Homo sapiens: one gene and its partners. The protein of the gene in region 1 interacts with the protein of each later gene in a biochemical or structural test. Each region holds a gene or a part of one and is shown in the gene's direction. Other genes may lie near its edges.

Evidence for each region.
Region 2: the proteins of ARHGEF11 (region 1) and EGLN1 interact in a test that uses a peptide from one of them, tested with the Homo sapiens proteins (one large-scale study listed by IntAct).
Region 3: the proteins of ARHGEF11 (region 1) and PRLHR interact in a test that uses a peptide from one of them, tested with the Homo sapiens proteins (one large-scale study listed by IntAct).
Region 4: the proteins of ARHGEF11 (region 1) and TRPC5 interact in a test that uses a peptide from one of them, tested with the Homo sapiens proteins (one large-scale study listed by IntAct).
Region 5: the proteins of ARHGEF11 (region 1) and KCNJ18 interact in a test that uses a peptide from one of them, tested with the Homo sapiens proteins (one large-scale study listed by IntAct).
Region 6: the proteins of ARHGEF11 (region 1) and LPXN interact in a test that uses a peptide from one of them, tested with the Homo sapiens proteins (one large-scale study listed by IntAct).
Region 7: the proteins of ARHGEF11 (region 1) and TMIGD1 interact in a test that uses a peptide from one of them, tested with the Homo sapiens proteins (one large-scale study listed by IntAct).

The regions. Positions count from the first base shown.
Region 1 is NC_000001.11:157,039,243-157,042,742, reverse strand, and holds part of ARHGEF11 (rho guanine nucleotide exchange factor 11), read left to right. Parts: intron 1-3,500. UniProt on the Homo sapiens protein: May play a role in the regulation of RhoA GTPase by guanine nucleotide-binding alpha-12 (GNA12) and alpha-13 (GNA13). Acts as guanine nucleotide exchange factor (GEF) for RhoA GTPase and may act as GTPase-activating protein (GAP) for GNA12 and GNA13.
Region 2 is NC_000001.11:231,363,288-231,366,787, reverse strand, and holds the end of EGLN1 (egl nine homolog 1), read left to right. Parts: intron 1-312; coding exon 313-377; 3' UTR 378-3,032; downstream 3,033-3,500. UniProt on the Homo sapiens protein: Cellular oxygen sensor that catalyzes, under normoxic conditions, the post-translational formation of 4-hydroxyproline in hypoxia-inducible factor (HIF) alpha proteins.
Region 3 is NC_000010.11:118,589,497-118,592,131, reverse strand, and holds the end of PRLHR (prolactin-releasing peptide receptor), read left to right. Parts: 3' UTR 1-2,135; downstream 2,136-2,635. UniProt on the Homo sapiens protein: Receptor for prolactin-releasing peptide (PrRP). Implicated in lactation, regulation of food intake and pain-signal processing.
Region 4 is NC_000023.11:112,079,977-112,084,091, reverse strand, and holds the start of TRPC5 (short transient receptor potential channel 5), read left to right. Parts: upstream 1-1,315; 5' UTR 1,316-2,213; intron 2,214-4,115. UniProt on the Homo sapiens protein: Forms a receptor-activated non-selective calcium permeant cation channel. Mediates calcium-dependent phosphatidylserine externalization and apoptosis in neurons via its association with PLSCR1.
Region 5 is NC_000017.11:21,702,523-21,705,112, forward strand, and holds the end of KCNJ18 (inward rectifier potassium channel 18), read left to right. Parts: intron 1-208; coding exon of another isoform or gene 209-264; coding exon 265-1,566; 3' UTR 1,567-2,090; downstream 2,091-2,590. UniProt on the Homo sapiens protein: Inward rectifier potassium channels are characterized by a greater tendency to allow potassium to flow into the cell rather than out of it.
Region 6 is NC_000011.10:58,565,857-58,569,356, reverse strand, and holds part of LPXN (leupaxin), read left to right. Parts: intron 1-3,500. UniProt on the Homo sapiens protein: Transcriptional coactivator for androgen receptor (AR) and serum response factor (SRF). Contributes to the regulation of cell adhesion, spreading and cell migration and acts as a negative regulator in integrin-mediated cell adhesion events.
Region 7 is NC_000017.11:30,327,558-30,331,057, reverse strand, and holds part of TMIGD1 (transmembrane and immunoglobulin domain-containing protein 1 isoform 1 precursor), read left to right. Parts: intron 1-1,528; coding exon 1,529-1,807; intron 1,808-3,500. UniProt on the Homo sapiens protein: May control cell-cell adhesion, cell migration and proliferation, cell morphology, and protects renal epithelial cells from oxidative cell injury to promote cell survival.

The DNA.
Region 1 (3,500 bases):
GGAGGAGGCGGTGAGCCTTCCTGGGTTGATGTGAGACACTCCTGGGGGTTTGGATATCCTCATAGATAAAAATCTCAGGATTTGCCCAGCACATTACAGTTTCCTAAGTGCTTTCGTAGAACATATCTCATTTGAATCTCACAGTGGTTCTGTGTGAGGTAGACAGAAGCATCAGAGGTTATTATTCATGTTTCACAGAAGGGGAAACTGAGGCTCAGAGAGGCTACCTGGCTTGCCCAGTGCCATCTTGCCTGGCTAGTGGCAGAATCTGGACTCAAAGACTCAAACACAGGTCTTCTGAGTCTGAATCTGTAGCTCTTTCATTGCCCCATCATGTCTAACTAGGCTTCTGTACTGGTCCTGTAGAATGTGTGGGGCACCGTTTTCTCCTTTCTCTTTGGTAGTAGGGTAAAGTGCCCGTCAGCAGTCAAGGTCTTCCCTTCTACTTTTCTGTCTTGGGGCTCCTACCTTGGGGGTTCAGTCTTGGGGCTCATACCTGTAAGTCCTATAGTTAAAGCACTATTTTCTCTTGTAAGATAGTGCAGCTTTGCAGGGTAAGGGTATTCCTCACCTCCACCCTGCCTGATTCTCTTCCCCATTAAGAGTGGTAGGACTCAGATCCCCTTCAGACATCCCCAGCTAGCTGCACTGAATCTTACTCCCTTAACTGTAGGCTTATTCAATTGTAACTTTGGGCAACATCAGCCTCAAGACTCTATGGATTTTAAATAATTTACAGATTTAAATCACACTGAAAGGAATAATACGCTGCGGATTATGGAGTCTAGTATTCTTTCAGTTTATCAGTTTGCTGTGTAGAGAGCCTAGTGTAAGGTGCTATAGGAGAGTTTTAGAAAATTAAGGTGTACAGTACTTGCTCACAGAGAGAGCATGCAACTGGGGGACTGGGAAACACGTAAGACTCTTGAAGACCACATAAAGCAACACCAGACTGTAAGCCCCTCACAAGCAGGGACAGTTTGGTTTGCCTGTATGAAATCCTGTGTGCCTAGCTTAGTGTCTTGCATGAGGTGAGTACTCAAGAAATGTTTGACAAATGAATGTTAGAGTGAATGAACAGATCAGCAAGTACAAATTATTTCATTGCGGGTTGTTTCAACATTCACGTGTTAATTTCAAATGTAGTCAAATAAGGTCAATTAGAGAAGGTTTCCTAGGTAATGTGTATTTTCTAGAAAATAAATGACATAATAAAGGACTATGTATTTGGAAAGAGATTGTAGCTGAGAGTAAGAAAATTTTGGAATATTTACTTGGCAGTCTTTCATCTCCTGTAGCACCCTGTTCAAGAGTGACTCCTGGGTCCATAGAAAGCATAAAGTATTTGCAACTATTCTTTATCTTTCAGTGTTAATCAGTTGTTACTGAAAGATGGGCTAAAGTGTAGCTGTTCATGTCCCTTTCAGTTTTTGTCCATGGGCAACTTACTGCCCATTAATATATATTCCTTTCAAGAGTTTCTAAAAATGTGTTTGCTATTGCAAACAGAGATAATGATACTAAATTATTTTTACAGGAGTGGTCATGAGTTTTGCTAAGCCATCTATATCTGTTAGCCTGGTTCCCCCATGGCAAATGTTTTTGAGATGGACAGGAGGGTTAGGGGTTTGCATCCATGAAACATCTTTCCTCTGCCCAAAGTTAGTTCATGTGAGGATCAAACCAAAGTACTTTAAGCCAAGAGTTTGTGGTTTGAGTCCTGGCTTTCCCCTTAACTATGTGACCTTGGGGAAGTCACATGCCTCCTCTGGCTTCCTCATGTAAAGCAGTAGTAGTTCATTTCTATAAAGTACAATCCAGTTCTCAAACATTTTTATATGGTGTGTCATTTGAGGATTATAATGTTTGTTTCATCTCTCTCACAAGCCTATTGAAAGGAGCAAATCAAACGAGATAATGTATTTCAAATTGTTTTCTAAACTGTAAACTCTATATAAATTATAGATGGTAAATTCACAGATTTGATTTAGCTTCGTGCACAACTTTCTGAGCTAAGTATCCCAAAACAAAACAAGGTGACTGAAATCTTTATATCATTTTGAAGAATTTAAGCAGAGTGAACTGGCTTTATTGTTGTAGAAGTGCATGGGGTCAGGAGGAAGGAGTATTTTTCCAATAGATAGGGTACTAGAAGAATGTGAGAAGAGAAGGGTTACTGAATCTCCTTCCCAGGAACTCTGATGAATGAGAGAGACTTCATCTACCTTGGCTCACCTTAAATGTCTGTTAGTGATGGGGATAGAAAGGATTTGTTCTGTGATCTCCAGCCATTCCTTGTCTTAAAAGCGTATGACTTTCCTAATTCAAAATAAATCTAGACCCAGCAACTGTTCTCTGTCAGGGGTCTCTTCGCACCTTGGCTTCTGGTCTTTATTGACTCCTGGGACCAAGAAGTCCCCAGACATTTAGCTGAGTTTCTACCTAGATTAGAAGGTTGGCCTCCCAGAATGGAGACAGGGATCCAGAGCTACGTATGATAAGTCCCGGAAATGCTGAGTCTTTTCCAAAATGTACCCTTGTTCCCATCTAGGGGTGTGAGATGAGAGACACAATGGATTTGCAGCTGAAACATTTGGCAATTAATCACCATTATGAGAAGGAGCAGACTAAGCTTAACTTCAGATACTCAAAAACATTTCTGAAAGAGTGCCCTTTTATTAATGTATTTGTTTAGCTTTTTTAATAGACAAGAAATAAGAAAAATTAAATGACAATACGAGTTCATCAAAAATAAAAAGATTTTGTGAACAGCACATAGCTAATCTCCTAGTTAGTATAAAGGTAAAGGAGTTCTGGAAGCTCACAGCCTCTGTGGAATGGAGTTTAGAAACTCTAGTTTGTATAGTGTTTCTTGCTGCTTTAATGTTCTGATAATCTGATGTTTGTGAAAAGGCTTTGTTAACTGTTGAGTTCTATAAACGTAAGAGGAGTTATTTTAATCTATATTGACTGAATCTGTTTCACCTCTTCATAGTAGCATTGCCTTTAAAAATTCATTTTTATTGGTTTATTATTTTTTAAGCTTAACTCAAAGATATATCACGTGGCTTGGAAACTCTTTTTGCTGTGGATTGTGGTGTTCCTTCTTTTGTCAATCACTATATTGATAAAAGACCCAAGCATACACCTGCTAGTGGCATGCAAGATCACTCCTTTGCCCCATGGGGTAAACCGTACTGAAGAAGTTGCTGATCCTGGTCTCAAAAAGAAAAAAGTATAACTTCATAAAAAGTCATGTTAGATCTTTTGTGAAAGGAGGTTTGGAGTTCTGAGGAAAGAACACAACATCTGAGTTAGTAGACGTGGATGATGGAGCCAGCTTTGTTAGCAGCTGGGTGAATGACCTTGCAAAGGTGCTTACCTGCCCTCGACCTCAGTTTGCTTATTTGGAAAAATGAGGGAATTAGGCTAGCCAGCCTCTAAGATTTGATTCCTTTTAGCTATTACGTTCTTTCAGCCTCTGAAACCAGAATGCTTTG
Region 2 (3,500 bases), about 74 Mb from region 1:
TGGCACAAGCTCAGTGTGCTTTCAGAGACACTGAACACTCTGTTGAAGAAACTCAAATGGCTTTTAAAATAAAAAGACAAAATCATTATCTCTGTGTAGAGGATGGTTTTATCCTTGAAGGTTTACTATTTGAAACCTCATCACAATAGAATGCTGAGGGAAGTTTTTGGAAGTACAAGCGTGATAGTTCTCAGATGATGTTTGCAAAGTTGAAATATTGTCCATACTCTTAGGAATTCAGTGGAATGCAGTAGCAGAAGCTCTCTGGTGCTTAGTGAATGAATGAAAATTTTTTTTTTTTTTACCTTGCAGGTGAAAAAGGTGTGAGGGTTGAACTCAATAAACCTTCAGATTCGGTCGGTAAAGACGTCTTCTAGAGCCTTTGATCCAGCAATACCCCACTTCACCTACAATATTGTTAACTATTTGTTAACTTGTGAATACGAATAAATGGGATAAAGAAAAATAGACAACCAGTTCGCATTTTAATAAGGAAACAGAAACAACTTTTTGTGTTGCATCAAACAGAAGATTTTGACTGCTGTGACTTTGTACTGCATGATCAACTTCAAATCTGTGATTGCTTACAGGAGGAAGATAAGCTACTAATTGAAAATGGTTTTTACATCTGGATATGAAATAAGTGCCCTGTGTAGAATTTTTTTCATTCTTATATTTTGCCAGATCTGTTATCTAGCTGAGTTCATTTCATCTCTCCCTTTTTTATATCAAGTTTGAATTTGGGATAATTTTTCTATATTAGGTACAATTTATCTAAACTGAATTGAGAAAAAATTACAGTATTATTCCTCAAAATAACATCAATCTATTTTTGTAAACCTGTTCATACTATTAAATTTTGCCCTAAAAGACCTCTTAATAATGATTGTTGCCAGTGACTGATGATTAATTTTATTTTACTTAAAATAAGAAAAGGAGCACTTTAATTACAACTGAAAAATCAGATTGTTTTGTAGTCCTTCCTTACACTAATTTGAACTGTTAAAGATTGCTGCTTTTTTTTTGACATTGTCAATAACGAAACCTAATTGTAAAACAGTCACCATTTACTACCAATAACTTTTAGTTAATGTTTTACAAGGAAAAAGACACAAGAAGAGTTTAAATTTTTTTGTTTTGTTTTGTTTTTTTGAGACAGTCTTGCTCTGTTACCCAGGCTGGAGGGGAGTGGTGCATTCTTGGCTCACTGCAACCTCCGCCTCCCAGGTTCAAGCAATCCTCCCACCTCAGCCTCCCAACTAGCTGGGACTGCAGGCACACACCACCATGCCTGACTAATTTTTGTATGTTTAGTAGAGACGGGGTTTTGCCATGTTGCCTAGGCTGGGGTTTAAGTTAAATTTTTTAAAAAACTAAAGTGACTGGCACTAAGTGAACTTGAGATTATCCTCAGCTTCAAGTTCCTAAGATAAGGGCTTTCTTAAGCTTTCAGGTGTATGTATCCTCTAGATGTAGACAATAATGTCCCATTTCTAAGTCTTTTCCTTTTGCTTCTCCTTAAATTGATTGTACTTCCAAATTTGCTGTTATGTTTTTTTCCTAATACTGTGATCTATCTGATCTGCAGACAAGAACCTTGTCTCTGTTGAAGAGCATCAAGGGGAGATTATGTACACATTGAAACTGAAGTGTGGTGTTACTGACGGAATGTGCAGTAACTCCTCAGATATCTGTTAAGGCATTTCCCAGATGTGATGCCAGCCTTCTTACCTGTACTGAAAGATGCTTAGCTTAGAAAAAAACAAAACAGATGCAAAATCAGATAATTTTATTTTGTTTCATGGGTTTTCTTATTTACTTTTTAAACAAGGAAGGAATATTAGAAAATCACACAAGGCCTCACATACATGTTATTTAAAGAATGAATTGGGACGGATGTCTTAGACTTCACTTTCCTAGGCTTTTTAGCAAAACCTAAAGGGTGGTATCCATATTTTGCGTGAATTATGGGTGTAAGACCTTGCCCACTTAGGTTTTCTATCTCTGTCCTTGATCTTCTTTGCCAAAATGTGAGTATACAGAAATTTTCTGTATATTTCAACTTAAGACATTTTTAGCATCTGTATAGTTTGTATTCAATTTGAGACCTTTTCTATGGGAAGCTCAGTAATTTTTATTAAAAGATTGCCATTGCTATTCATGTAAAACATGGAAAAAAATTGTGTAGTGAAGCCAACAGTGGACTTAGGATGGGATTGAATGTTCAGTATAGTGATCTCACTTAGGAGAATTTGCAGGAGAAAGTGATAGTTTATTGTTTTTTCCTCGCCCATATTCAGTTTTGTTCTACTTCCTCCCCTTCCTTCCAGATGATAACATCACATCTCTACAGTAAGTGCCTCTGCCAGCCCAACCCAGGAGCGCAAGTTGTCTTTGCCATCTGGTCTATAGTACAGTGCGCGGCGTTAGGCCACAACTCAAAAGCATTATCTTTTTTAGGGTTAGTAGAAATTGTTTTATGTTGATGGGAGGTTTGTTTGATTGTCAAAATGTACAGCCACAGCCTTTTAATTTGGGAGCCCCTGTTGTCATTCAAATGTGTACCTCTACAGTTGTAAAAAGTATTAGATTCTACTATCTGTGGGTTGTGCTTGCCAGACAGGTCTTAAATTGTATATTTTTTGGAAAAGTTTATATACTCTCTTAGGAATCATTGTGAAAAGATCAAGAAATCAGGATGGCCATTTATTTAATATCCATTCATTTCATGTTAGTGGGACTATTAACTTGTCACCAAGCAGGACTCTATTTCAAACAAAATTTAAAACTGTTTGTGGCCTATATGTGTTTAATCCTGGTTAAAGATAAAGCTTCATAATGCTGTTTTTATTCAACACATTAACCAGCTGTAAAACACAGACCTTTATCAAGAGTAGGCAAAGATTTTCAGGATTCATATACAGATAGACTATAAAGTCATGTAATTTGAAAAGCAGTGTTTCATTATGAAAGAGCTCTCAAGTTGCTTGTAAAGCTAATCTAATTAAAAAGATGTATAAATGTTGTTGAAACATTATGGTGGTTATTTCCAGCTGTCTTTTTTGTTTTTCAATCCTTTATCATACATTGGCTTTCCGAATGATCCCTTTCATCAGATAAAGCTTTTCTGGCTTAGTCTAGGACATTTGTTATAACTTTTTGTAAATGATAATGAAGGAAAGAGAACAGTAAACATAGGAGTTCAACAATTTTAGAAACATCCCTGGGGTCATTGGACTGTCTGTGGGATCCATGAAGTCTGTTTGGATTCTCAGCACTTGAATTCTTGCCCTTTTAGTAGGATTTTTAAAATTATTTTAACATTCATAGCTGTTGACAGATCTGTATCACCCCTCTGCTGCAAAAGGAAGTGGGGTTAGGCATTTATCTCTAATTGTCATAGATGTACCATTGTGTATATGCAAGAAGGTTTAATTTGTGTGGTCATAACTAAAATATGAGAGCTCTTATTAAGGTGAGATCAAAATACCTGTTTATAT
Region 3 (2,635 bases), on another chromosome or scaffold:
TGTAATTGATGTCTGGGCTCTCCTCCCAAGAGTCTAGTTGATTTGAGATGGTGCCTGGACACTAGCATTTTCCAAAGCACTTCAGGGGATTTTAATGTGCAACCAAGATTAAGCACCTTAAGAATTATCCTTTCTAGGGCTGGGCATGGTGGCTTACACCTGTAATCCCAGCATTTTGGGGGACCGAGGCAGGCAGATCACAAGGTCAGGAGTTTGAGACCAGCCTGGCCAACGTGTTGAAACCCTGTCTCTACTTAAAATACAAAAATTAGCCAGGCGTGGTGGCGCACGCCTGTAATCCCAGCTACTCGGGAGGCTGAGGCAGGAGAATTGCTTGAACCCAGGGAGGCAGAGGTTGCAGTGAGCTGAGATTGTGCCAGTGTACTCCAACCTGGGTGACAGAACAAGACTCCATCTCGGGGTGGGGGGTGGGGGCGGGAATCCTCTTTCTAATGAATCTCAGAAACATCCGAATGAAGCTTTAGTTGTACCTGCCAAAGGTGTTAATAATTTGGAGCTGAATTTGACGGTGTTACATGCCATACTTAGAGAATACTCTTTTAGTCTTCAGGCAATACCAGCTCAATCACAAAGAGGCAAATTATTGAAATCAGAATATATAGGGATTCGTTCAACAGTTTACTTACATATTTCTTATGTATCAGTCCAATCAATTCAGAAGGAATATCATCATTCAACCTTAGGTCAATTGTATTATAAAGTTACATACCATGGCCAGGTACCATGGCTCACATCTATAATTCCAAAACTTTGGGAGACCGAAGAGGGAGAATTGCTTGAGCCCAGGAGTTCAAGACCAGCCTGGGAAATATGGCAAAACTCCATCTCTACAAAAAATAGCCGGACGTGGTGGTGCACACCTGTGGTCCCAGCTACTTGGGACACAAAGGCAGGAGGATCACTTGAGCCTGGGAGGATCACTGGGCTGCAGTGAGCTATCATTACACCACTGCACTCCAGTCTCAGTGACAGAGCAAAATCTAGTCTCAAAAAAACAAAAAAAACAAAAACAACAAAAAACAACAAAAAACAAATTTACATACCATGAATTATTTTAAATCCTGGTTGTCAGGGTGTTAGAAAAAGTGCTCCTTGATTAGCTTAAGTTTATATCAACTATGAAAAACAAGCATCTCCATTAATTACTAGAAAAGCTGCCACTGGTTTCTGTCATGCCTACAACTTAAGTTTGAAACACTTACATGGACTTTATAAAGAGCTTAAAGAGGTTGGAGAATTAGATTGTGCTTATAAACATCTTTACATATTATGAAAATCAGCAACGGAACAGCAATTAATTCTTACAACATCTGAAATGTGTTGTGGACTAGTTTATAAATCAAACCGAATTTCAAAAAAATCAGAGGTGAGTCCCAGAGAGAACTGCGTAGGACTGTAGGTAGAAAATTTTATTTAATAATTCATTTTGGTTAATATCAAGCATCTAAGATGTATACACAGTCCTCTTCCTGCAAGGAGTAATACAGGCAGTCAGGCTGGGAACTGAGCCAACTTGGTACTTGGCAGCAGCCCTTCTCAAGGCTGATGGGAGGTTCTGTAATCCTCTTTGCAAGCTTTGTCACCAGGTCACACTTTTGGCAGCCAATCAATAGATTTATCTCATTAAACTGGCAGAAGAGTGTTTCAATGCATGCTCCAACAGCTACCTGGAAATAGCAATTGTGAGAGATGCTAAGGTAAGGATATTCCAGTTCCTATAACCGTCTGATTTTTTGTCCTTGTGAATTTTCAATCTGCTGTTTTACTGGGATAGCTAAGTTCCAGGTTTATTTTCTCAGGTAGGCTCACCCACGACCTCTGTCCTGTGGTTTGCATTCCTGAACATCTGTTAGTCTTTCAAATGCAAGGCACAAAACTAACCTCAAGAGTGTGGCTAGATCTGGGAGTGAACACAGGGCCTGTCCCTCACAGACGAGAGGTCAGGAGCACCTTTGTTTCCCAAGGCAGGTTCTTGATTGATTTACCTTCATGCGTTGATGTCTTTGCTATGTGTGTAAAATGCATGTGTTGCTGAATCACATGTGAAGCTCTACATGCTGGGGTTTATACTGTGTTTGGCATGTTGTGGGAGCTCAATAAATACTAAATCAGTTGCACAGTCTTCAGCCACAGGATTAATAAACCAAGCCAGTTATACATATGGGGTAACTACACAACCTCAGGATAGCCAGAGTCAAAGCAAGGATAAATCATGTCAAGGAAAACATGCTATTCAACCTAGATTTGTCAACTCCACCTTATTCCAGAGATGAACTGTTCATTTTGGGTCTTCTGTGACCCCCTGCCCCCAACCTCAGTAATGCCAGCATTTAAATATATGGCACCAAGCTCTCTACTCCCCAAGACTGCATATGCCTAAATCCACGGGTCCATCAAAATGAGAGTAGAGAACTTCATGCCTAATTTCTATACCATCATATATTGGAGAGTTATTTAAATGTTAGCATTTTATCACCCATTTCTCACACATAATTTGGGAAGGTCTAACAACATCCCACATATGGGTCTATAAGCAAAATCACGAGGTTTCTAAAATGTTCATGATGGAGTCATAAAAAAGATTTTTCAGTACACCTAAAATACCACTCAAAAA
Region 4 (4,115 bases), on another chromosome or scaffold:
GCAGAGGGGGTTAAAGAGCAACAGGAAGTACAGTGGAGTTTTCTCAGAGCTAGGGATTGTTCTGAGAATGGGTAGGGAAAGGTTTTCAGGTACCAGCCCGGCGTCCAGAAAGGCAGAGACTCACATGCCCCTTTCCTGAGAGCGCTAGGAAGGGAGATAAAAGACAAAGCCAATATTTGGGGCTGTGCGGCCAGGCCATGAAATGCTGCCAGCTAGTGGACCTATGCGCCTGCAGGTTGCAGGTAGAAGTCTCAGGCTTGTGGTGGGGGTGGGGCTATTTAGCCCCTTCCAGTTGGGCTCAAGAGGGTGGACATTCTGAGCGCCAGGCTATAAGGTGAAAGAAGTGGAGAGGTGCTTCATGTGAAAGGAAGGCGTAAAGATCAAAGAGTGGCCCAAGTGTCCGGTGACACCGCCCCTCTCCCTCCACAACAGATACCACTAAGCAACCTAGCCCCCCGCCCCCATCCTACAATATCACTTTCCCTCCCTGTATCAATCTAGGCTGGATCTTGGGAGATCGACCCTATGGGTGAGAGGGGCACGGATGGGAGAATTAGGTAGCTCCAACTAGATTAATCTAGATCTATCAGGGATCCAAGCCTGCCCCATAGGACCCCAGGTCAGTCCCTGGCGACTCAGCGCTCCGCTGTCTCCCTGTCCTACCAGCCGCCCGCCGCCCTTACTCCCCCAGGTTCAACTCCCCTTCCTCCTGAATGACCTATGGTCGCCGGAGCAGCCTCGCCACCACCGGCCCAGAGCCCAGGCTGACGGGGGTGGGCAAAGGTCACTGCCCAAAGCAGGGGATATTCAGGCCAAGGGGCAAAGAGAGACTCTGCTAGCCATATGCTCCGAGGGACTCCTGTCCCCTCTACCCGCACCCGCGCTTAGCCTCCCACCTCCCCTCCCGTCTCTGCCACCACCCAGGGGAGGGGGAGGTCTGGGGAAGCAAACAAACGAGACAGAAAATTCCGTACCGAGGGGGGAGAGATGAGACGGTGGGACGGGGCAGCGGGGGTTGACTTGGGGCTGCGGCTGCGGCTTCCTTCCACCCCTGGCCGCGGAGCTGCAAAGAAGGCAGGAGCTGCTGCCCCTGCCGCCTGCCCCGTCCTCCCTCTTTCCCTCTCGCCTCCCCGCCTCCCCCGCCCCGCCCCGCCGCCAGGAGATTGAGAGTGGCTTCGGCCCGGGGGCTGGGGGAGGTGAGGGGTGCTTTTGCCTACCACGGTTGTCTCAATCTCTCTCTCTCTCTCTCTCTCTCTTTCTCTCTCTCTCTCTCTCTCTCTCTCTCTCTCTCTCACACACACACACACACACACACACCCCACATCACAACCACGACGGGTTGTCCGCAGCTCGCAGCCACCCCAAAGGGAGGAATAAAGAACAGGAGCAGAGGGAAGCCGGGCGCAGAAAGAAGGGAAAAGGAAGAGCTCAGGGTTGGACATTTTTGGAGACAGGGGTGGGGAGGATAAAGGGAGCGTGCCTCCTTGATTTTCCCCTCCCCACCCCTCTTTGCTTTTCTCTCCCCTTCTCTGTATAGCATATTCCAGAAACGGCAGCAGAAGGGGACAGAAACCTCTAGTGTAGAAAAGGGTTTTGGAGGGGTAGCCAGCGCTCCCGCCAGCCGCTACCTAACAGCTGGAGCTTGAGTGTGCGTGTAAGAGTGTGAATGCGGCTCTCTCTCTTTTTTTCTCTCTCTCTCCCCTCTCTCTCCATCCCTTCCTTCCTCCCTCCTTCTCCCTCTCCTTCACACTACAGTGTCAGCTACCCCTGTCAGTTTCCCCGTGTCAGTTTCTTCCCTAGCTCTTATTGTGTGTGACTGGCTGCGTGAAGGGAGTGGGTGCGCTTGAAGGGGCTCAGGTTGGGTTAGAGAGCTGGGAGAACAGGGTAGGGACATTGGTAGAGCAAAGAGTTTCAGGGCACTGGCGAAGGTGAAAGGTGAGGAGGGCCGATCTGTTACAGGCAAGTTTGGCAATAACTGAGCATCCAAAGGGGAAGCCAAGGTAGGAGCCAGTACTTGCGCTCGTCTTTACACCCCGCCCCTTTCCCTGTGCTCATCCGCCCACCCACCCATCAGCCTAGAGGCCCCGGGCTGTCCCAGTCGGCTGCTGTTTCGCGCCGCAAAAGAGGAGTCCGGCAAGGCGCCGCACCACGCATCCTGGCCGGTGGACATCCAGACGACACAGATTTTATCCGAAAAAACCACTTGGCTCAGGGTAAGTCTACAGGCGGCCGGTGCGGTCCATTTCACTGCCTGAGTGCTGCTGAGGGGCAAGGGGCAGCGAAGTGCGGGTTGAATGAAGATGCTGGGCTGCTGTAGGCGGAGAAGCATTGACTGGCTGGCTGTGGGCTCAGGGTGGTAGGGAGCAGAGGGAGGCCAGCAACAGATTGTTTTGGAAGAGGAAATGCAATGGGGAGAAGCTCCAGGGTTGATAGGACAAGGTGCTGCCTGCGATGACCAAAAACATCCTTTCACTGGGAATATTTTCCTGAACCACAGCTTTGTCCTATCCCTGGACAATGATTTGCTCCATTCTTGGGTAGATTTTAAGATCCGTGGGGAACCTGCTCCCAGGCCTCCTTAAAATCGATTAGTGTGGCCCTCGGACCAAGGATACCTGCCCTTCGTCAAAAGCCACCTTCAGAAATAGAGAGCCAGGAGCCGGATCATGAAGGTTCAGGAACCAGGGTCCCCATTTACCTTCTTTGTCTTGTATCCTTCAAACTTAAGAAATGGCCAGATTTGTTTGCCTGTCTTCCTTAAAGGAACCAAGAAATGCAAATGGAGGGGCATCAGTCAGATCTCTGCTTCAAAGTGGACACCTCCCTCCCTCCCTAGACACACATCGACTCGGACAAATGGTCATGATCATGTCCCACATATGCAGGTACTGAGCTGAATTCACAGATGCTGATCTTTCTCCATGGTCTCTTAGAATGAGACTAGAAGGGCTTTTTCCCTATTACAACCTGGGCTCTTTGGATCGCAGTCATGTACCTGGTGATGGTTAAGTGTTTAGCAAGGTTATTACTCCCTCAGGAAAAGCCTGAAGCGGGGAAACCAGCCTGAAAGATAGAACCTCTGAACTTTACCCGAGTTTATTATAAGAGTAGGAGAGACATAGACTAATTGATAATGCTCTTTTTAGAGATTGTGCATGTTAACCCTTGGCTTCAAATGTGAAATGATTACAACATTGACATGGCACACCCAGACCCACTTTTCTATTGCCATATATTTATCTTCATGGCATTTAACAAGAATGACAGATTTATATATCAGCATTCATAATTGTCTATTGTTGGTGTCATAGGTTTTTTGATGTTTTATTGATGATTTATATTATGTCTCCTTTCCCATAAACTCTTTAAAAACTGAGATATAAATGATGTCACATGGTACCTTTCATCATGTCTTTAAAATCTGCTTATTCTAAATCAAAAGGCATGTTAATATATTTACATAGTACGAAGTTCGTTTCAAAGCAAATATATAGTCTGGGATAAAAGAAACCCACAGGGTCAAGGAGTCTCTGAAGCTCTCTCTGTGAGGTCGAAGGAAGAATTGAATGTCACCTAAAATCCACATTTTGGTCCCTGGAAGATGCTGTTTTCATAAACTTTCACAATATACATAGGGAGAGAGAGAAAATCTGTGTGTGTGTGTGTGTGTGTGTGTGTGTGTGTGTGTGTGTGTGTATGTAGTTTTTCAAGGACCTCAATCAACCCCATACAATCTTGGCTCTGCTTTTGTAACAGAGGGGAGCAGGAGGTGAATTTGTGCTTCCAAAGCACCCAGGTTCGTCTGTTAAACTTTCTATTTATTACTATGTTACCAAAATGCAATGAATTGCCTCTTTCCAACTCAGCAAATAAGAGAAACGGATTCTGCATTAAGTGAAACTGTTTATGTTGCATCAGGCAATTCTTTCTAATGTTCACTGCTGAGAGAGAGCAGAATGAGGATTACTCAAGTAGGATCTGAAAAGGTGCCCATTCTGTTACTTTTTAAAGCAACCATAGTAAGTATTTTCTTAGGTTAAAATTACACTTTCAAATAGATATACTAAAGACCGGGTTGCAGACAGGTAGGAAAGAACTGGCAGCATCATAATTGG
Region 5 (2,590 bases), on another chromosome or scaffold:
GTTTTTGGCTGGAGCTGCTGGGGGCCCGAAGGGGGTGGCCACTCGCACTGGGAAGGCGGAGTGGGGAGCTGGCTTAGGCAAGACCAGAGCATGATTGTGGGTCAATCAGGGTGGAAGCGTCCTCCAGTCACGTCTGGGGGCCCTGGGATGGGGGTAGAGGAGCCTGGAGCCACCAGCCCAGCCAGACATGCTGTCCTCTCTGTTCCAGGAGCCGCCCTGCCTGGAGCTAGCCTGGGGGTGAGCCAGGGTCCCCCAACCCCCGGGATGACCGCGGCCAGCCGGGCCAACCCCTACAGCATCGTGTCATTGGAGGAGGACGGGCTGCACCTGGTCACCATGTCGGGCGCCAACGGCTTCGGCAACGGCAAGGTGCACACGCGGCGCAGGTGCCGCAACCGCTTCGTCAAGAAGAATGGCCAGTGCAACATTGCGTTCGCCAACATGGACGAGAAGTCACAGCGCTACCTGGCTGACATGTTCACCACCTGTGTGGACATCCGCTGGCGCTACATGCTGCTCATCTTCTCGCTGGCCTTCCTTGCCTCCTGGCTGCTGTTCGGCGTCATCTTCTGGGTCATCGCGGTGGCACACGGTGACCTGGAGCCGGCTGAGGGCCACGGCCGCACACCCTGTGTGATGCAGGTGCACGGCTTCATGGCGGCCTTCCTCTTCTCCATCGAGACGCAGACCACCATCGGCTACGGGCTGCGCTGTGTGACGGAGGAGTGCCTGGTGGCCGTCTTCATGGTGGTGGCCCAGTCCATCGTGGGCTGCATCATCGACTCCTTCATGATTGGTGCCATCATGGCCAAGATGGCAAGGCCCAAGAAGCGGGCACAGACGCTGCTGTTCAGCCACAACGCCGTGGTGGCCCTGCGTGACGGCAAGCTCTGCCTCATGTGGCGTGTGGGCAACCTGCGCAAGAGCCACATTGTGGAGGCCCATGTGCGCGCGCAGCTCATCAAGCCGCGGGTCACCGAGGAGGGCGAGTACATCCCGCTGGACCAGATCGACATCGATGTGGGCTTCGACAAGGGCCTGGACCGCATCTTTCTGGTGTCGCCCATCACCATCTTGCATGAAATTGACGAGGCCAGCCCGCTCTTCGGCATCAGCCGGCAGGACCTGGAGACGGACGACTTTGAGATCGTGGTCATCCTGGAAGGCATGGTGGAGGCCACAGCCATGACCACCCAGGCCCGCAGCTCCTACCTGGCCAATGAGATCCTGTGGGGTCACCGCTTTGAGCCCGTGCTCTTCGAGGAGAAGAACCAGTACAAGATTGACTACTCGCACTTCCACAAGACCTATGAGGTGCCCTCTACGCCCCGCTGCAGTGCGAAGGATCTGGTAGAGAACAAGTTCCTGCTGCCCAGTGCCAACTCCTTCTGCTATGAGAACGAGCTGGCCTTCCTGAGCCGTGACGAGGAGGATGAGGCGGACGGAGACCAGGACGGCCGAAGCCGGGATGGCCTCAGCCCCCAGGCCAGGCATGACTTTGACAGACTCCAGGCTGGCGGCGGGGTCCTGGAGCAGCGGCCCTACAGACGGGGGTCAGAGATCTGAGCCAACCTTGGCCGACATGCAGCATCCACCCCTGGCCGGGGAGAGGCCCCGCGGTCGCTCAGGGGCCCTGGGTTTGAGCAGAACGGGCCCAGTGCCCTGGGTTGCAGACTCAGTAGCGTTTTAGTCGTTTTATGTTTCTTTGCAAAGGCCTCAGAAGGTTGGCCGGAGAGGGGGCAGCCAGAGCGGCAGCCCCCGGCCTCAGAGGCTATCACAGGCTCAGGGCAAAGAAGTGGCCTCCTGGGGGGCCAGGCCACGGGGGCCAGGGCTTCTGCCTGAAGATGGAGCTGCAGCCTGCGGGGAAGCAGCCCAGCTCGATGGTGGGCCCAGCCTCTGCTGTCCAAGGCTGGCTAGCTGCGGTGCTCCTTGCTGGTTTTTAACTTGGGGAGAAACACCGGGTTTCAGCTTTCTCGACCTTAGCTTGGGTGAGACTGTTTACAAAAAAAAAAAAAACCATGCAATTGGAGAAAAAAATTTTAATTCATAGGGGGCAAAAAGAACAATTAGAATTCCATGGGTCTGCCAGGATGCAGCAGCTGGCTGGAGGCTCCAGAGGGTTCCCCGAGGTGGGACCGGCCTCTCCCCGTGTATGTGGGCACTGCAGTCCCTGGGCAAGCAGGGTGCTCTGGGGCCGCACTTTGTCGAGCTCACGAGCCAGCTAGGCTCTGTTTGTGATAGAAAAATCAAGACCATGTTAATGATTGTAATAAAAGCTTTCTGCTGTCTTTGGGGTGCTGGGTGGGTCTGGGAAGAAAGTGGTTTGAGCTTTTAGAGTTTGCCTTTGTACCTTAGAGATGTGTCTCAGGGCCAGGCATGGGACCTGCCATCGAGGGTTCCTCCTCCCACCCTCGATTTTCCTGTTTTGCTTCTTTCTCCATTTCTGTCCAGGCCTCCGCCCAATTCCACAGTGAGGGGTGGTTAGGAGCCATAGGCCAGGATGCCTCCTTGGGAAGGGAAGTCAGGATCCCAGGCTAGGAGGAAGCTGGCAGCCCCGTCCCCACTGGGCCCACAGTGTGAGTCGTGCGTT
Region 6 (3,500 bases), on another chromosome or scaffold:
TTAAAGCTATCAAGTAAAACAGCTATATTTACTCATATATGCATTCTCTTCCTATGGATAAGTCTATATGGACGTACATTATAATTAAAAGGTTGCTTGATGAGAATGGAATTAGTGTAAGATGAATTAAGTAGATGCTCTTCATAGCTGGTAATTTTGTACTATGATATTTTGATTCATCATTGTTCCCTGTATGAAATAGCCAGAAGCACAGACCTGAAATTTGAGCTCAGGGGTAGTTTACGCCCTAACTGTTCTTTTCTCCAGACACATACACAATTTTAACGATACGAATTTATCTCTCTACTAGGGAACTATTGTCTTTGTTCTCAGTGTTAGATTATAGCTGTAGGCTCCTAAGTGGTCTCCTGCCCTTTGCCCCACTGCAGTCTGTTCTCAAGCAGCCAGGGTCACCTTTAAAAACTAAAGTCAGACCCTGTCATTCTTCTACTCAAAACCCCAAAATGACTCCCATCTCATTTGGAGTAAAAGCCATAGTTTCATGTTGATCTTTCTGGGGTGACCATATATCCTGGTTTACCTGAAAGAGTCCTGGGTTTATGCTTGTTTTTCTCACATCCTATTAACTTTACTTTTTACCCCAGATCTTCAATTTTATTTAAAGTTTTCTTATCAGTATTTGCATTAAGTAAGCCACTATGGCTTAACAGACCTCCTTCCAGCTTCTTCCATGGTCTCATCTAGCAGCGTATGAAACACATATTCAGTGAACAGTGCTCTTTTTTTTTTTTTTGAGATGGAGTCTCTTTCTGTCGTGCAGGCTGGAGTGCAGTGGTGCAATCTTGGCTCACTGCCACCTCTGCCTCCCAGGTTCAAGTGATTCTCCTGCCTCAGCCTCCTGAGTATCTGGGACTACAGGCATGCACCACCATGCGCAGCTAATTTTTGTATTTTTAGTAGAGACAGGATTTCACCATGTTGACTAGGCTGGTCTTGTACTCCTGACCTCAGGTGATTTGCCTGCCTCAGCTTCCCAAAGTGCTGGGATTACAAGCACGAGCCACTGTCCCCAGCCAAATTCTGACTTAATTATGGTTAAATGCAAAAGATGGCTAATGATAACTTGTCTTTTTTCTTGATTCTGTTCAGATGAAACCTAGCTAGCAGCAACCTTTCAAGAATTATATGCAGGGTGCTGCCTGTTAAAGCTAAGAGCTCAAGCACAAGTACCTCTTCTGATCTTAGGTGGTAGCAGAAGAATTTCTGAGGCTTTTCCCCCTGCTGGCCACTTTGTGAACCACCACTCATGCCCTCATGTGGTCGTGTGGTGGGTGGCCTGTGAGATGCGTGGAACCTCCTCAGAGTCAGTAGAAAATGGGAGAAATTGTGGCTTAATGTCATACAAATTATGTTTAGGAAATAGAGGCTAAGTAATTTTGCCATAGAGTATAGTGTAACCTAATTGTTTTATTAAAGCAGTTTTGTTATTATTTGTATATGTGAAGCTCTATTTGTTTTATTATATGGTAATGCCTTTTGAATTTTACAATAAACCCTTTCAGCAGTTAGCTCAAAACAAAACCCACATGTTTAATTGTCTCAAGAAAGCTGATAATGAATATGCAACGTGCAGAAAATATTTTTCAATATTTACCATGTACCATGCAGGCAAGTAGAAAGATCACTATCCCTTTGAAAACCAGAAGGTACAAATATGGTGAAGCAGCTTTGGCATCTATTTCCAAAGTTAATAATTTAAGAAGAATATGCCTTAAAATGACTTCAACACGGCAGCTGCAGGAGGCCTATGTACATGTCATTGTGAAGCACACCTTCCCATTAGTATCAAATAACTCATAAATTAATTTTGCTCATTTTCAATTCCAAGTTTTCTTGTACTTGTAAGTAAACTGGTAATAATTAATGAGTGATTTTCCTTTGCAAACCTTCAAATAATGTTTTTTATAATAATTTCCTTAGAGGTCTCAATTCAAAAATGTATTAATTCTGAAATGTTTCAATTTTGTTTTTTATCTAATTCAAACAATCAAAATAAAATATGTGAAAATTTATTTCCTAGTCAAAAAGTGAAACATCTGACATTGTTAATGCCACTGTAAATTTAGTTGAAAAGCTCAACATTGAAGGTAAACTGTTGTTTTTGTTGTAAGAATATGAATACAAATGTTAATAGAGCACAGCATTGTGTTAAAAATGTTCTTACCAAGTTAACAAGCTATGAAGCAGAAATGTACTTGGAATTGGTTGTAATGTGCACAAAATTTGTGACTGCATTCAAACAAGCTGCGGTATTCTGTCAGTCAAAACAGAAACTAAAATTGTCAAAATGTATAAATTATAAATATATATATACACACACACACACACACACACAGATTTTATAAGTAACTGATCTACAAAACTTTTCTGACAGAAGCTGATATTGAACACTACCATGCAAGGAAACATTTCAGAATGACTATATGTATATTCCTGTCTGTGTTGCATGTCATCAATTGGATTTTGGGAATGCCTGAGCCTTTGAAAAACCACTTTGTAAAGCAACCCAAATTTAGATTGCATTATGTTCAAGACCAGTTGGAAATTTTTAATCGATTACTGAATGAATGTAGCATGAAAATTCAGCTTTTGAAGCTTTTAGCAAGTTACAATTATGTAAAATAAGGCTTGCAAAGGAAGAAGCTCAAATTTCTCCCTACAAAAGCGAAGAAGGAGTTGAACAAATCAAAAGATGAAAGCAGATATGGTTTAATTATCTATTTTGACAATTGTGCTTCAGAAAAATCTTGACTTTGATGTATTTTGACTTCTAATTTTATTTGGATAAATTTTTATTCTCTACCAAAATGGAGAAAAATTGTGAAAGTCTATGATTTTGCAGTATCTAGATTTGGTGAAATGTTGAAACAATCACAGATATAGACAACTTGAAAGTTTTATCTTGTAAGAAATTATTGAGCAAAAGTGCTTTGAATGAAGGTAGAAAGACAGCACCTATGACGATATTGGCCTGAAATATTTACATATTTTAATCTAAAAAATGAGAAGATTCTTCATTTAGCAGAACTTACAGGTTCATCAGTATCTAGAGAGGAAATGTGTTCTCAGTTAAAAACATATAGTGAAGCATCAATTAAAGTTGTCCATAATTTCAAATATATTAACCATAAAATGAAGTTTTGAAAAAGATTGCAGTTTTATAAAAAAATAACTGTTTAAATAAAAAACGAAAAAAAACACATGTTCCTGAAAAATGTCCACATCCCAATGCTAGAGACAATAATATCTAAATAACCAATTAAGGTATGTGAATACATATAAAGAATAATTGTCTGTACCATTAAAAATGTTCAGATAATCAATTTTTTGTTGTTGTTGAGACAGAGTGTCACTCTGTTGCCCAGGCTGGAGTTCAGTGGCATGATCTTGGCTCGCTGCAACCTCCGCCTCCTGGGTTCAAGCAATTCTCCTGTCTCAGCCTCCCGAGTAGCTGGGACTACAGGCACCCACCACCATAC
Region 7 (3,500 bases), on another chromosome or scaffold:
ATGCCTGGCTAATTTTTTTGTATTTTTAGTAGAGACAGGGTTTCACTATGTTGGCCAGGCTGGTCTCAAACTTTTGACCTCAGGTGATCCGTCCGCCTCAGCCTCCCAAAGTGTGGGATTACAGGCATGAGCCACCATGCCCGGCCAGCTTAAGTGTTTTAAAAGGAAGGTTAATGTGTTTACAGAACATATTAACAAATGTTATCTGGGGTACAGGTTTATGACAGATAAAGTTCTTTTTTAGCTTTTGTTACTTGCTTCTGAATCAGAAAAATAAAAACCGAAATTCAGGTGTATTACTATGCAATGAATAGGTTTCTAAAAGTCAGAGCTGAAAAACAAAACAAAACAAAAAAAACCTGGTATGTATCCTGATCACCCAACCCACAAAGACTGGTCTACCACACAAACCTCAACTACTTAAACATCTTTTTATTTTTCTTCACTGCCAAAACAATATTAAAACATTATAGATGCAAGACCCAATTTGTCCATAATCCTATCATTTAAGCAGAAAATGTTTTCAAATCAGTTCTTACTCATCTGCATGTGCAATTTTGATACATTTGTAGTAATTATTAGAGCTTTAATTTATATTCTGCCTTTTTGCCTAAAGTTTATACCTTAAATATTTTTCCATTTCATTCCCTTGCTTTCCCACTTTCAATCCCTTCAAGTAAACAAATTAAATATGGTATGTGTATATGTATATACATATATGCATGCGTGTGTGTGTATTCAATATATATGGGTTTTTTCCTGTCTTTTTTCCATGAAAAAATACTTCCATGTATACACACATACACACATATGTGTATGATCATTCTGTATGTATTGATTTCTAACCTGATGCTTCTCAAATCACCGGGGGTCGGGGGGTGGGGTGCCTTTAAACAACACAATGCCCAGATTGCACTCATGTCAACTAATCAGATGTCTGGGGATGAGAATCAGGCATCAGTACTTTTTTTTGGGGGCAAGGTCTTGCTCTATCACCCAGACTGGAGTTCAATGGTGCGATCTTGGCTCACTGCAACCTCCACCTCCTGGGCTCAAGCGAGTCTCCCACCTTATCCTCCCAAGTAGCTAAAAGTATGGGTGCACACCACCATGCCTGGCTAATGTTTTTTTTTTTATTTTTTTATTTTTTGTAGAGACGGAGTCTCACTATGTTACCCAGGCTGATCTTGAACTCCTGAGCTCAAGCGATCCTCCCGCCTCTACCTCCCAAAGCCCTGGGATTATAGGCACAGCACCCAGCTACATCAGTACTTTTTAAAAGATCCCCTGGTGATTCCAATGTGCACAAAAATTTGATGACCACATTTTAATCTTTTTCTTTTTCAGTTAACAATACATTATGAATATTTTTCATTATAAAATCATATAGATCAATATGACTATTTTTAATCGTTGAGAGTTTATTTTGTTCTACTGATGTAACATAACTTATTTAACCAATCCCCTGTTCATGAGCATTAAGGTTGTTTACTCTGTATATCTAAATAGTTTCTCCCTATACTCCCAGGTTCTGTTTTAACTGTGAATGGTAAAACTGAGAACTATATCCTGGATACTACACCTGGCTCCCAAGCATCTCTGATATGTGCTGTTCAAAACCACACCAGAGAGGAAGAACTGCTCTGGTACCGAGAGGAGGGGAGAGTGGATTTGAAATCTGGAAACAAAATCAATTCCAGCTCTGTCTGTGTCTCTTCCATCAGTGAAAATGACAACGGAATCAGCTTTACCTGCAGGCTGGGGAGGGATCAGTCCGTGTCCGTTTCGGTGGTGCTGAATGTTACTTGTGAGTGAGGGGAAAAGAAACAGCTAGTGGGTCTGTAATGTCTGTAACACATGAAGTGGTAGTTGAAATCTAGGTCTTGGTATTGCCAAATTGCCCAATTTATGCTCCTACCACAAAGTATGAGAGTACCTATTTCCCCTCACCCTCATGAGCACTGAGTATCGCCAAACTCTGAGAATTTGCCAGCCTCCTTTGAAATTTTCTTTTCCTTTTCTTTTTTTTCTTTTCTCTTTTCTTTTCTTTTTTCTTTTTCTTTTTTCTTTCTTTCTTTTTTTTTTTTTTGAGACAGAGTCTCGCTCTGTTGCCCAGGCTGGAGTGCAGTTCAGTGGCGCAATCTCGGCTCACTGCAACCTCCACCTCCCGGGTTCAAGCGATTCTCCTGCCTCAGCCTCCTGGGTAGCTGGGACTGCAGGTGCCCACTACCATGCCCAGCTAATTTTTAATTTTTGTATTTTTAGTAGAGACGGGGGGTTCACCATGTTGGCCAGGCTGGTCTCAAGCTCCTAACCTCGAGTGAACCGCCTACCTCAGCCTCTCAAACTGCTGGGATTACAGGTGTGAGCCACTGCACCCAGCCTGTTTTCATTTTTTAAATTAAGAATGAGGGTGTTCACCTTTGTGTAAACATAATGGTCTTTTTTTTGTTTGTTTCCATGAAATGCCTGCTTGTATCCTTAACTCATTTTTTTCCGTTGGGTTTTATGCTTTTTTCTCATTAATCTGTACAAGGGCTTTGTAGATTAAGGAAATTAGTCCTTTGTCATTTTGAATTGTAAGTATTTCTCCTATTTGTTTTTGAAAATTTTTATTGTTCTTTTTTGCCATATTGAAATTTTAAATGTTTATATATTTAAAGCTTCAAGTCTTTTCCTTTGTAGTTCCTAGCTTTTGTGTTCTGCTTAGACAGATTTTCATGGCCTGGCACAGTGGCTCATGTGTGTAATCCCAACACTTTGGGAGGCAGAGGCAAATGGATCACTTAAGATCAGGAGTTCGAGACCAGCCTGACCAACAATGGTGAAACCTGGCCTCTACTAAAAATACAAAAATTGGCCAGGTGCGGTGGTAGGCACCTGTAATCTCAGCTACTCAGGAGGCTGAGGCAGGAGAATTGCTTGAACTCAAGAAGCAGAGGTTGCAATGAGCTGAGATGCCACCACTGCACTCCAGCCTGGGCAACAGTGTGAGACCCATCTCAAAAAAAAAAAAAAAAGATTTTCATTAGGGAATCTTTAAACATCACCTTAAAATCAAAAAAGGTGAAGCTTTTCAATGATTGGGTTCCAGGTATTGGTAACCCATTGGTAGAACTGTATAGGCTTAGGGGACTGTCAAGTGATACAATGTAGATGATCACATGGGTTGTTGGGTGAAAAGCTGGTTCTGCATGAGAATGGTGTGGATGGTATGGCAATGGGTGAGGTATAATGATGCAGTATGATTTGGTAGAAAGACCCTATCTCTACAAACATAACATAGTGAGACCCTATTTCTACCAAAAAAAAAAATAAGGTGTGTTTTTAATTAGCTGGGCATGGTGGCACACATCTGTAGCCCCAGCTGCTCGGGAGGCTGAGGCTACAGGATCTTCTGAGCCCAGAAGTTTGAGGCTTCAGCGAGCTGTGATTGCGCCACTGCATTTCAACCTGGGCAACAGAGTGAGACCCTGTCTCAAAAAAAATAAAATAAAATA